2 separate regions of the Homo sapiens genome follow, and region 1 is linked to region 2. Evidence: fine-mapped expression QTL. A gene starts in region 2. The other region holds a variant in brackets. All regions are shown on one strand. Distances are between the middles of the regions.

Region 1 (3,046 bases), 90 kb after region 2:
GTGAGCAGAGATCGTGCCACTGCACTCCAGCCTGGATGACAGAGCGAGACTCTGTCTAAAAAAACAAAACAAAGAAAAGAAAAGAAAGTGCCCAGAAATGCCCACTGCTGGGCACTTGGAGGCCTCAGGGACCATAGAAACGTGCTACTTCTCTAATGTAGGAGACTCCTAGGGCAGCCCCTCCTCTGGGAAGAAGGAGTGTCCCTAATTCCAAGATGCTCATTGTCCAGGTAACCCAGAATGAGCATTATTGTATTATTTGGGAGTAGATTTAATTTGCTTGCTATTGTATTTATAGCATCCAGCCAGGCTTGGCACATAGTAGACACCTACAAATATTTCTTAAGTGATTGAATAAACAACTCACAAGCTCTGATGTGTCCATCCTTATTGAAGGACCTTGGTTCTGCCACCCTGTGCTTCTGTCTTTGATTCCTTTTCCTGCCCCAACATTGCCCCAGATCCAGCCTCTGCCTTGTTTATCCCCTGTTCCTCATGACCCACAGAATTCCAGCAGGAAGGACCAGACCCTGTCAGGAGGGAGGGGAGAGGTGGGAGGAGACAGGCCAACCTGGAGGGAGGGGCAGAGAGGGAGGAGGTGTGCAGAATAGAAGCCTGCTCCACGAGGCAGCCACAGAGGGGTGCTGGGGTCAGGGTTACCAATTACAAAATGAATCACTCAGCTAGTCTTCGATCTGGAAAATAGTCCAGAAACAGGCAAACACACAGCCTGCATGTTGGGGATTAATTAGAAAAAAAAAATACGGTGGTTCACGCCTGTAATCCCAGCACTTAGGGAGGCCAAGGTGGGCGGATCACGAGGTCAGGTGATTGAGACCATCCTGGCTAACGCGGTGAAACCTCGTCTCTACTAAAAATACAAAATATTAGCCGGGCGTGGTGGCGGGCGCCTGTAGTCCCAGCTACTCAGGAGGCTGAGGCAGGAGAATGGCAGGAACCCAGGAGGCGGAGCTTGCAGTGAGCTGAGATCGTGTCACTGCACTCCAGCCTGGGCAACAGAGCGAGAGGCCGTCTCAAAAAATAAAAATAAATAAATAAATAAATAAATAATTTTTAGAACAGTTTTAGAGTCACAGAAAAGGTGTAAAGATAGTATTGAGAGTTCCCATAAGACCACACCCAGTTTCCCCTATTATTAACCCCTCACATTGGTGATACATTTGTTACAATTAATAAACCAGCATTGATCATATTATTATTAATTAAAGCCATACTTTATTGAGATTTCTTTAGTTTTTTTTGTTTTTTTTTAATTATACTTTCAGTTTTAGGGTATATGTGCACAATGTGCAGGTTAGTTACATATGTACACATGTGCCATGCTGGTGTGCTGCACCCATTAACTCGTCATTTAGCATTAGGTATATCTCCTAATGCTATCCCTCCCCCCTCCCCCCACCCCCGCAACGGTCCCC[G/A]GAGTGTGATGTTCCCCTTCCTGTGTCCATGTGTTCTCATTGTTCAATTCCCACCTATGAGTAAGAACATGCAGTGTTTGTTTTTTTTTTCCTTGTGATAGTTTACTGAGAATGATGATTTCCAATTTCATCCATGTCCCTACAAAGGACATGAACTCATCATTTTTTATGGCTGCATAGTATTCCATGGTGTATATGTGCCACATTTTCTTAATCCAGTCTATCACTGCTGGACATTTGGGTTGGTTCCAAGTCTTTGCTATTGTGAATAGTGCTGCAATAAACATACGTGTGCATGTGTCTTTATAGCAGCATGATTTATAGTCCTTTGGGTATATACCCAGTAATGGGATGGCTGGGTCAAATGGTATTTCTAGTTCTAGATCCCTGAGGAATCGCCACACTGACTTCCACAATGGTTGAATTAGTTTACAGTCCCACCAACAGTGTAAAAGTGTTCCTATTCCTCCACATCCTCTCCAGCACCTGTTGTTTCCTGACTTTTTAATGATTGCCATTCTAACTGGTGTGAGATGGTATCTCATTGTGGTTTTGATTTGCATTTCTCTGATGGCCAGTGATGGTGAGCATTTTTTCATGTGTTTTTTGGCTGCATAAATGTCTTCTTTTGAGAAGTGTCTGTTCATGTCCTTTGCCCACTTTTTGATGGGGTTGTTTGTTTTTTTCTTGTAAATTTGTTTGAGTTCATTGTAGATTCTGGATATTAGCCCTTTGTCAGATGAGTAGGTTGCGAAAATTTTCTCCCATTTTGTAGGTTGCCTGTTCACTCTGATGGTAGTTTCTTTTGCTGTGCAGAAGCTCTTTAGTTTAATTCGATCCCATTTGTCAATTTTGGCTTTTGTTGCCATTGCTTTTGGTGTTTTAGACATGAAGTCCTTGCCCATGCCTATGTCCTGAATGGTAATGCCTAGGTTTTCTTCTAGGGTTTTTATGGTTTTAGGTCTAATGTTTAAGTCTTTAATCCATCTTGAATTAATTTTTGTATAAGGTGTAAGGAAGGGATCCAGTTTCAGCTTTCTACATATGGCTAGCCAGTTTTCCCAGCACCATTTATTAAATAGGGAATCCTTTCCCCATTGCTTGTTTTTCTCAGGTTTGTCAAAGATCAGATGGTTGTAGATATGCGGCGTTATTTCTGAGGGCTCTGTTCTGTTCCATTGATCTATATCTCTGTTTTGGTACCAGTACCATGCTGTTTTGGTTACTGCAGCCTTGTAGTATAGTTTGAAGTCAGGTAGCGTGATGCCTCCAGCTTTGTTCTTTTGGCTTAGGATTGACTTGGCGATGCGGGCTCTTTTTTGGTTCCATATGAACTTTAAAGTAGTTTTTTCCAATTCTGTGAAGAAAAGCATTGGTAGCTTGACGGGGAAGGCATTGAATCTATAAATTACCTTGGGCAGTATGGCCATTTTCACGATATTGATTCTTCCTACCCATGAGCATGGAATGTTCTTCCATTTGTTTGTATCCTCTCTTATTTCATTGAGCAGTGGTTTGTAGTTCTCCTTGAAGAGGTCCTTCATGTCCCTTGTAAGTTGGATTCCTAGGTATTTTATTCTCTTTGAAGCAATTGTGAATGGGAGTTCACT
Region 2 (2,500 bases):
TCCCTTCCTGTGATTTATCTCTTTGTGCCCTTTACCCAATTTATTCTGCTGTACAGATCTGCTTTTTTCTTATTAAGTCATACAAAGGGCTCATATTTCTTCTCCCAGAAGAGCTAACTCATCCTGCGTGGTTCAGTGTAATCATCACCATTTTCTGGAAAGAGCTGCACTTCAAAAATATACTTCAACTTATACCACATCCATGTGGAAGACCCCTTATTCCCACCACTCTCACTTGAAGTACTTGTCAAAGTTAACACTCATCCTCTGTCAATCCAGGCGTTTCCAGAAGAATCGGTAAGGCTTTCTAGCTCTACCCTCTAACACAGACAATCTCATTCACCCAGAAAAAAAGACACCAAATCAATCAACTGACTCATCTAGTAGCTTGATTTAGTGTGGATTTTCAATGAAAACTTCAAATAAATATATATATTTCCACACATACATACTTAATGCACACACACATATGTATATAATCAGCCCTCTGTATCCATGGGTTCCACATTTGTGTATTCAACCAATCACGGATCAAAAATATCTGGGAAAAAGCTCCACAAAGTTGCAAAAACCAAGCCTTGAATTTGCCACGCAGCAAGTGCTATGTTGACTCCACATGAATGAAGCGCTCTGTATGCGTTGTATTAGGTATTACAAGTAATCTAGGTACTTGTATTTAAAGGGTACTGGAGGATATTTGTAGGTTATCAGCAAATACTACATCATTTTATATAAGGAACTTGAGCATCTATGAATTTTGGTATCTGCAAGGGTCCTGGAACAAATCCCTCACAGATACTGAGGGAGGACTTTGTATATATAAAAATGTATGTGTGTGTGCGTATATATATATATATATATATGTGTATATATATATATATACACATATATATGTAAAATTATATTTTTGCTATTTCTTACAAGTCAATATAAATAAACACAAGCTATTAAGTGTAAGCTCTTTGGAGTAGTCATATGCACATAGTTGAGAATTTGTGAAAGTATAGGAGGGTAACATGGGCACAGATGTTGACTAAAGAGGTATAAAGGGCCAAGTTTGGGTGAGTGCTACACGCAAACTTATCATTGTGTGGATGGGAGACAGAAAGGGAAAATTAGAAAAAGCAAGAAGAAAATGGAGATATGTGGCCATATTTTCTCCCACTCTGGCCCCATACTACCTCTAAATTGCTGTGTACCTTCCTCTCCTCCCTCCTAGATCCAAGAGCACTGCTGGAAGTTACTACTTCCACCTGCCTGGACCCCTCCTTGTTCCACCTCCCTTTTCCTGGAAAAGCGACACCTACCTGAAAATCTCTTCTAAGTAAAAACTTCTATTGTATTTCGATAAGTTCTTGCCCGGATAAGCACAAGAAGACCAGTGGTACCTGCTAATTTAGTGAAGTCCTTGATATGTCCAGTGATAGCTTAGGCGTCACCACTCCTGAAACAGAGATACCATCAGATCACAGACATTAGTAAAGTAGTAAACAATGTAAGTATATAACTTCCTGTTTTAAACAGACTAGCTTCTCAGTTTTGCAAGTTTTCAGAAAGATACTTTCGTGCAGTTCTTCTTTTTCATGATTGACACCACATACTAACCAGTCACCTGAGAAATCCTTGCAATTAGTGCTGCTTTAGGGGCTCTCCACCCATTGGCATTGCTCATTTTTAGTGGTGGGGGGTTGTTATAATTTTTTTTTTTTTTTTAAGACAGGATTTCATTCTGTCACCCAGGCTGGAGTACAGTGGCATGATCTCAGTTCACTGCAACCTCCACCTCCTGGGTTCAAGGGATTTTCCTGCCTCAGCCTCTGGAATAGTTGGTATTAGAGGCACATGCCACCATGCCTGGCTAATTTTTGTATTTTTAGTAGAGACAGGGTTTCACCATGTTGGCCAGGCTGGTCTCAAACTTCTGACCTCAAGTGATCTGCGAGTCTCGGCCTCCTAAAGACCTGGGATTTATAATTCTTGAATAAGCATTGATTTGACTCATCGGGAGACAGGATGAAGAATGAAATAAGAATTTCCCGGCAAAGGAATAAACTAATTATTCTGCAGGGTCCAGTAGACACTTGGATGGGGCAAAATGTGGCTGCAAAGGTTTAGACAAGTCTAAAAGACTTGAGTTTGAGTTTCAGTTGTGGCATACACAGCTACATAAGCTGGGGGTAGTAATTTAAACTTGCTGGACCTCAGCTTTTTCATCTCTAAACTGGAAATAATGATATTTAAGTCATAGCATTGCCGTGGAACCAACTAAGATAAATATGTGAAAAGTCTCTGCAGAATATACAGGGCTAAGGAAATGTAAAGTGTGGGTAGAATGCCACTGTGACATAAGCGTCATAGGGCAGAGCCATGTCTCAGGGCAAAGCGTCACAGGGCAGAGCCATGTGCCTGCTGTATGTGCTGATGTGTCCCTTGGGACCTAGCATGGCACTGGGCACAGAGCAGGTATTCACCCAATATTTGTGGGAAGAACTCTGACTAA

Evidence for each region. PIP is the estimated chance that this variant, and not a neighbour inherited with it, causes the effect. A credible set is the group of variants that fine-mapping cannot tell apart.
Region 1: its variant is the best candidate, but not a certain one, in a credible set for the expression of CCR3 in thyroid (GTEx, PIP 0.53).

The regions. Positions count from the first base shown.
Region 1 is chr3:46,151,006-46,154,051 of GRCh38, reverse strand. No RefSeq gene overlaps it. Among named protein-coding and RNA genes, the nearest start is that of CCR1, 56 kb to the left of the region's middle. The variant G/A (reference allele first, on the strand shown) is at 1,437.
Region 2 is chr3:46,241,346-46,243,845 of GRCh38, reverse strand. It overlaps CCR3 (C-C motif chemokine receptor 3), which reads right to left and starts at 1,386. Exons shown (of 2, transcript NM_178329.3): 1 at 1,308-1,386.